Regions from separate parts of the Homo sapiens genome. Here regions 2 and 3 are each linked to region 1. The links come from fine-mapping of genetic effects on gene expression. A gene starts in region 1. Each other region holds a variant in brackets. All regions are shown on one strand. Distances are between the middles of the regions.

The links.
Region 2: its variant is fine-mapped to the expression of PREP in atrial appendage (GTEx, PIP above 0.99).
Region 3: its variant is fine-mapped to the expression of PREP in skeletal muscle (GTEx, PIP above 0.99).

What each region holds. Positions count from the first base shown.
Region 1 is chr6:105,401,877-105,404,635 of GRCh38, forward strand. PREP (prolyl endopeptidase) reads right to left here and starts at 1,206. Exons shown (of 15, transcript NM_002726.5): 1 at 971-1,206. The coding sequence starts at 1,015. RefSeq lists a silencer at 914-1,483.
Region 2 is chr6:105,299,918-105,302,676 of GRCh38, forward strand. All of the region lies in intron 10 of PREP (prolyl endopeptidase), which reads right to left. It also overlaps the pseudogene RPL35P3. Among named protein-coding and RNA genes, the nearest start is that of PREP-AS1, 22 kb to the left of the region's middle. The variant T/G (reference allele first, on the strand shown) is at 1,273.
Region 3 is chr6:105,363,101-105,365,859 of GRCh38, forward strand. All of the region lies in intron 6 of PREP (prolyl endopeptidase), which reads right to left. Among named protein-coding and RNA genes, the nearest start is that of PREP, 39 kb to the right of the region's middle. The variant T/A (reference allele first, on the strand shown) is at 1,150.

The DNA.
Region 1 (2,759 bases):
AACATTAAAACTGTATCACACAAATACATACTTATTCTGATTATATTTTAAGTAATCTGAGAAATGTAGCTATTAGTAAGAGAATCACGGCCACAACATGTGGATGCAATCCAGTTCCTAAGTCGTCAAATTCACGTTTACACAAAAAAGGTGTCTGCCCAGAATTCCGCCTACTGGATCTCAACAGTTACCTTGAGTTCATCTGCAGCTTAGGCAAATGGTGGTCAACTCCGCCACTAGACAAAACTTACTCATTCTGAAAAAGGTCAACCCCTCTCCCTTCTAAGACCTCCTCTCACCCTCTCTCAACTCCTTTTCTTGTTTAAGAAAACATGGATCAGCACGGCCACACTATGGGGTCACTGCTCCGCCTTCCCCATTTCTGTCCGGGTCTCTGGCATCCCCAGGGCCCAGTGCGCCTCATCCGACCTGGGACAGGGTAGGCGCTCAACACACCTTTTAAAATCGAACGAATATGCTTCAACTCTAAGGACTTTAAAGTGTAAGTTTTAAAAGTTTGTTTTCGTTTTTAAATGTGACATCACACACACACACACACACACACACACACAAACACACACACACACCCCAGCGGACACTTTCTCCTACCACCATATTTAAGCAAGAGGCTTCGCCAGTCAAAAAAGCAGTGACACCGTCTGTCTTCCCACTCCCTGAAGACACCCATTCTACCCGGGCGTCTGCCCTTGACCCCATTGATTCTAGGAAGCGGCCGGGCGGCGCTGCCCACAGGCTCCGCCGCCAGCACTAGCAGAGTGACCGCCCGCGGGACCCCAGCGCTGCAGAGGAGCCCCGCGCCCCCGGCCCAATTCTCCCAAACAAAGGCCGAGGGGGAGGGGAGGGACGCGGGGGTCGAAGGCCTACAGGAAGAGGAGCTGCGGGTGCCACGGGTCAGGCAGGCTGGGCACCTTTGCCCGGGAGCCCTCTGGGCGGAGGCAGAGATACTTACGGCGGTCTCGTCGCGGTACACGTCGGGGTACTGAAGGGACAGCATGGCCGGGGACAGGCAGGGGGCAGCGTGGAGGGGCGCGGGCTCCGGGAGCGGACCTGAGCTAGCCGGGCTGGCCGCGAGGCGCGGCTGGGGCGCAGGCAGCTGCGGGGCGGCCGGCGGCAGCGGGCGGCCGGCTCACGGCCAGAGCTAGCACAAACGGACTGGCGGCGCGGCGGCGAGGACGTGCAGAAAGCAGGAAGCCGCTGTCTGCGAGGCCGGGAGCCCCTCCCCGGCGGGCGGGCCCAGCGGCGGCGGCGGCGGCAAGAGGGAGCGGGCGGCACCGAGCGTGCGCTAAGGCCGGCGCACAGCTCCCTCTGCAGGATCGCCGGCCGCGCCCGCGCCGCCCGGGCGCACGGAGGAGCACGCCGGCTACGCGCTCGCCCACGCCCGGCCGCCCGCCCGTCCTCTGCGCCGGGGACAAGTCCTTCCACCGAGGCCGGGTCCCCGCGCCTTCCCTAGCGCCCTGCCTCTCTTTGGCCGCGCTCGCAGGACCGCCTGTAGGAGAGTGAAGCCCCAGGGTTTCCTTGCTGATGGAGTCCCCCACCTTCCCCAGCCTTCCTGTTCCCGGGCTGGTTACGGCGGCGAAGGGAGACCTTGCCTCTCCCCAGCCTTGGAAGCAGAGGGCTGGAGGTGGCCTTATGTCCACTGCCTGCGACTCTGGACTTGAAGGGAAGAAGTAATCGATCATGATGACCGTGAAAGAAACACGTCTCCCTTCATCCCAGGACCCCTGGTGGACACTGGGTGGTTTAGCATCCGGACTATGGAGATGCTTTGGAGGTGTTGGCAGGACTACGGTTGAGCCCTTATTTGATATTTACCGATTGAGAAAGAACCAAGATTAAGAGGCCTGGAACTCATCAGGGGTATTTTATTTATCCTGCCTTTTCCTCATTTCCTCTCCTGCTGTCATGCTTGTTTATTGAGCACCTACTGTTTATGGGAAGAAAAGATAATAGACAAGATACTTGACCTCAAACCCATGAAAATTTAATAGTTACATGTCATCATCCTCGGGCCAGCAGCGGTATGTGTTCTGGTCTTGCTTCCTGGACCACCCAGAAGAGACTTTATAGCCCCAGCCATCAGGGGTATAGTGTGTGCCCAGTGTGTTTTCTATCCCTGGCTTCCAAAAAGTCCTGGAAGAAAGAATAGGTGTGACCAGAAAGTCCTTCACCTCCGGAATCTAAGTGGATATGGTAACTATTATAAACTTGTGTCCTCCGTCTCTTTTGTGATATGGTCCCAATTCCATGCCTCACCCTTAGTTCACCATTTCTGTTCATAGTGATGTGTCATAATCATTTTCTGCATCTGATCCCAGATACCCCCTCCTGGGGCAATCTGAGAATCCTCAATTCTGGGAGAACTCACGCTATTGATAACAAACTTTGTGCAAACACGGGGGCATAGCCCACTACAGCCCAGAAGTCCCAATTCCAGTTCCCACCTCGTGCCTTCCCTGGCTGTCACCTGACGCAGGGACTGGCAGGCATTGTCTCCTCCTTCTGCCACTGTGAGGGATTTTTTAAAGAGCAACCCAGGAGCACTTGACCCAGCAGACCCCCTAATGATAATATTAATGCTTATGGAGTGTTTTTTTCAGTGTATCAGGAAACTATCTAGAACTAATGTCCCTATTTTATAGTTAAGGAAAACGGGCTGACTTTTGCCCAGGACTTCACAAAAAGTGAAAAAGTAGAGCCAGGATTCCAACCTAGGTCTCTCCAATACCAATGCTCATTCT
Region 2 (2,759 bases), 100 kb before region 1:
ACGGAATCTCACTCTGTTGTCCAGGCTGGAGTGAAGTGGCATGATCTCAGCTCACTGCAGCCTCTGCCTCCTAGGTTCAAGCGATTCTCCTGCCTCAGCCTCCTGAGTAGCTGAGAATACAGGTGTGCACCACCACACCCGGGTAACTTTGGTATTTTTAGTAGAGATAGGGTTTCACCATGTTGGCCAGGATGGTCTCGATCTCTTGACTTTCAGTGATCTGCCCATCTCAACCTCCCAAAGTGCTGGGATTATAGGCGTGAGCCACCGCGCCCAGACTGTTTTTGTTATTTTCTTAAAAAGGAGACTCACTCAAACATTTCAAAAGCGATATTCCAGATACAAGAGGGGCTGCTGTTACTATTTTAGCAAAATGAGTCAGCTTAGAAAGATGATCCTTCTCCACACAGTCATTAGTGTTACCATCTTGAAGACAGATTATTAAAACAATAAAAATCCCACTATATCTTGCCATGGCCATTCTACCAAAAAAATTCCATTTCAATAGTATTTTTTTAAGGCTTAACAGACACAATTCATTTCACAAATAAAAAAATGCTTGAGCAAATCATAAAGCTATCCCAACTTTTTAAGTAATCAATTAAATTTAAAGCAGCTTCTGATTTTGCACATTTAAAACCATATTCTAAGAATAATTGTTTAACAGATAAGAACTCACAGATCCTTGAGCTGAATGCTTTATGTTAAAAAAAAAAAACTACTGAAGAAATGGTGTACATTTATATAAAGTACATAAGTCTAAAGTTTCAGAAATCCCATCTCTGTTGTCAAGCACAACTTTCCAGAGGCATCACCAATGATAAAGCAGTTTAACTCTGGAAGCATGTTTTAGCACAAGAGGGCAATCACTAAACACACATCTAGCTGCCTTAACATGTAAATCTGATTTCAAAAAAAAAAGAATATCTTCCTTTAAAGAAAAAAGAGAAGTAAATATGACAAATCAATGGAACATTACTGTTCCTTCAAATCAATGACCTTAGTTGTGCAAAGATCAACTGTCTCTCTTGAAATTATTATTCTCCTTGAGATGCGTACATTTAGTAATAAAATCAATTGTGTTAAGACGCACGAATGTGCAATCAGTTAGGTTCCTGAAAACAATCTTCAGTAATGCATTTGATGCAGTTCAGATACTGAGCTATCTGAGGCAAATGCCAGGACTCCCATTATCGCCAGTCATGAGATGTGCTCATCTATGAAAGATGAAGGTAGGCTGCAAAGGGCAGCCCCTTCAGACAGAAGAATGTC[T/G]GGTGATAGCAACTCCTGCCTAATTTTAGAGCCTGACAGGTTTAAAGGAGAATGTTCATAAAAGGGTGTTGAGCTCCCCCTTTTTATCAGAGTTGACAGAGGCCACTTGTGTGGTCTGTGCTACGTGTGCCAAATAAATCTGACAAGGAGCAGAACTGCTCTGAGTCCACAGGCAGCATGCAGAGGAACAAGACATTCCATTACCAAAAGAACTGGACAGTAGGCGGGCAAACTCCGTGCTTCAGTTACCCTGTAACATGAGCATATGAAGAACTTCCTAGGACTTAGAGGGAGGCATTACATGTTTCTGTGCTGTACTAAGGTGAAAAATGCTAGCCTGGCATTAGAAGGTTGTCATCTTGTCTATGTTCCAGGCATTTAACTTTTGGGGAGTAGAGAGGAGTTTAAGAGTCATCTTTGGGCAGAAAATACAGAAGGAAAGTCTATTCCAGACTGCTTTAGTTAGTTTTTCCAAGGATGGCTGGGCATTTTGGTAACACTGGGGATTTAAAAGCTCCCTTAGGATACCTCAATTACAGCAAAGTCAGTCTATTTAAAATCTGTTTTAACTTTTAGTACATTTCTTGAGCACCAACAATGTGCTAAGTGCTATACTGATCATCTCTGCAGAAATTCACCAGCTCTCTAAGGCTCAGCCATCTGTTTTTTGGAATAATACGCCTTTTCCCAGTCTCAAACTGTGAAGCCAAAAGCGAAATAGAAAGTGGAAGTTCTGAATACAAGGAAAGAAGGGCAGTGAAGGAGGCACAGCTGGATCTCGTGCTATGGCACTTTGATGAGTTTATTTGGATTTTAGCAGTAACCTGGTGTTTTGAGGTAGAAAGACACACAGGGCTAGGATGAATAAATCTGACTTGATTGTAGAACATCAAAGCCATCTTCAGTTCCACTGGTCTGATCTCTTTGTAGTTAATGAAGACACACAATCAGACATTTTCATTAAAAGTGAAGGAACCCTGCTACACGCGGAGGCCCAGAGAAAGCAGCGTCTGTTTTGGTACAGGCAGAAACTGCCCTGTAACATGGCTCACTGCAATGGGATTTATGCTGCACATGGAAGGCATATGCTGTGTGTTTTGCTCCTGCATGAGAACCACATGATGAGTCCATCATCAGAGGGTTATGAGTTCTGCATTGTTTGCCTTCAATAAATATTTGTTGAATGAATACAGAATTGCATATTAAATACACACTTTTCTTTTGTTCTCTTCGGCCAGCTCTCTTTTATTGACAATGTGACGTTCAGGCGTTCACTGTGTACTTCTGCAGCGGGTACGGCCGCTCCTTCCGCGGCTGCTGCTTGGTCTTCAGGTTCTCCTCGTGCTTGCTGGGCCAGTGGCGCAGGCGCATGTTTTCTCAGGCCGCAGGTCCAGGGGCTTGTACCTCTTGCCCTTGTAGAATTTCCTGAGGTTTTCTTTGTGTGAGTCTGGTTAATTACGGTGAGAACACGGGCAATGGAATTGTGG
Region 3 (2,759 bases), 39 kb before region 1:
AAAAATGGCTTATGGAGACACAACAGATACTAAGATTCAGGATTACTTTTGAAAAAAAAACTTTTCAAGAATTAGGTATAACAGAATTAGGTTCTCAATATAGGATTTAGGGAGATAATCACAAAGAAGCTGGGCATTTTTTCCTTAATCCTTTCTAAAGGGATGATGCATTTTCACAATCTTCATTCTAGAGCACCCTCTGCTGGGAACAGTGCCACAAAGTGTTTGATTTCTTTAGGATTTTTTTTCTCCCCAGATGCTCACAATTCACTTTAAAACAGAGCTTTGTGGGTTTTTGGGTTTTTTTGGTCCAATAGAACCTGACAATTTCTCTCCTGCCATGAAACTGTCCTTCAAGTAAAGCCTCACAGTCTATATTAAATAACTGGCACCTCTGCCCATCAAAGCCCAATGGCAGCTGTTTCATGTTACACCCCAGGGGCACAAGGGAGCTCTTGTTCCTGAGCCCAGCATTTTGGACATGTGCAGGAGGGACTGAATGTGGGAGGCTTCCCGAGGTCCCTGGCTGAAAGTGAGGAGGGCAGTGAACACATCCTGTACCTCCAGAACAGAGTAACCCATGGATATGCCTTCCCCTGGAGCAAGAGGTACCCAGGAAGCTACCAGGAAGACAGCTGGCCTTGAGACATCTTGAAAGGTCCCTGATGAAAAAGGGTGGAGGAAGGAAAGGCAGAGAAGTCTGAATCTCGAGGGAATGCTTCTGGGATCAAAAGCTTTGGGGCAGGCAGGTGGTGCAAAAGGGCAGCCAGAGAGTTTATAACCCACATCAGGGAACAGCAAAGTACAGAGTTTCCTAAAATCGAGGGGATGTCTCTGAAAAAAGGATGGCATAAGGAGAGCTGGAACCTGGACATACATCCTCATTGCAAGCAGCCAAGAGAGGCCAACAATGATAGACCAACAAACAATTCCCAATAAGCAAAACTCCAGTTTCTCTTGTCTTACTCCTCCTCCCTGAGTGGCTACTGGGAAAACTAACAGGGTGAATAGGCAAGGAGAGGGGCTTGGCAAACTTGAGCTGGGTAGAGGGCGAAAGCATGTAAATTGGAGAGAGTGATATTTTGTTCTGGACTGCAATGAACCTTTAATAGCAGTTCCAATAACCAAAAGTGTCCAGAAAGCAAGGAG[T/A]TCTGCCAGGTTGAAGGCAGTCGTCCCGGGAAGACACGCTGTCACAGCGTGACGGAGGGCAACAGTGGGGAAACTAAAGCTGCTTCCTGATTGGAACTTCCTGAGATCTGCCTGATCAAGGCAAGACAGACCTGTCCATGCAGGAAGGCAGAGGAGGTATCTGTGAAGAAGGAAGATGAGTCACGAGGAGACAGCATCTAGGATATAAAGAGAAGTTCTCAGTGAACTTGGACTGCGGCAGCCGAAGGGGAGGTTGACGACAGCAAGCCAGAGAAATCTGCACACGTCCACAAGCACATCCAGTCTCTGCCCACAGGGTTCCTCCACCCACACCCACAAAGCCCGCATCCTGCCCTGTGTCCTGCTTCTCTCACACCCAGCAGCTAAGTTCTCTCCCAGGAGGCTAAGAGATGCTGTGATAAATCCTCCGTCCAGTTTCAGAGCTGAAAAAGCCCTGGAAGAAATAAAGGAAATGACCTTGAACAGATTAAGTGACTTGCCCAAGGCCACAGACCGAACTAGAATAAAAATTTCTGTTCCAGTACAGTCCTCCCACTCTAACACTGGCTCTCTCATCACAGACACTGTAAAAACTGTTATCTAAATACTAGGTTCTATGACTGGACTAAAAGCAAGTACTTTTATAACAAAAGCAACAATTAAATAAAAGCAACAATTGCAGCACATGCCTTTGGTACATGGTTATAAAGAGGACTACAGCTGGGCACAGTGGCTCACGCCTGTAATCCTAGCACTTTGGGAGACCAAGATGGGCGGATCAGAGGTCAGGAGTTTGAGACCACCCTGGCCAACATGGTAAAATCCTGTCTCTACTAAAAATACAAAAATTAGCCAGGCATGGTGGCATGAGCCTGTAATCCCAGCTACTCGGGAGGCTGAGGCAAGAGAATTGCTTGAACTTGGGAAGCGGAGGTTGCAGCGAGCCGAAATCATGCCACGGCACTCCGCCCTGGGTGACAGAGTGGGATTCCATTTATTGCTTTTCTCTAAGATGCAAATCACTAAATAAAGGCTGTTAAGAAATTGCTTCATTTCCAGTGAATAGCCTGAGAGCTAATGTGTCCACCAGCCATGGGTGCTTCTGGCCCAGCTAGTTCTACAGTGCACCTGCTTCTTGGACTCCCCTGGCTTTATCACACTTCTTGAAGGGCACAAGAAATTCCCACCTCAAGATTTTTTTCATGATCCAGATTTTTCTGAGTGAAGACTTGGAACTGGACCATCAATTCAGATTGGACCTGAGGCTTCTGAGGCGTCACAGCAGCAGAACTCTAGAGTTCATGTTTAAGTGACAAGAGTACTCCTCCATGTAGCAAGATGGTCCTTTTGCTCAGAAGATCACATACAGCTGGGTTGGGAAAGGAGGAAGGAAGGAGCACTTACCTAGCCAGCCAGACCTGCCTGACCAGCCATGGTAACTGGTGGGATGACACCAGTCACAACAAGACCACCCAAGTTCTGGAACACTGCTTGAGGGAAGTCTACGCCCACTTCTTGTTTACGGAGCCCACGAGTTTTCTTACAGACTTCCTCTGCGTAATTCACTAAATAGGGCCCTGATCCAATAAAGATCAAATATAAAGGACTCA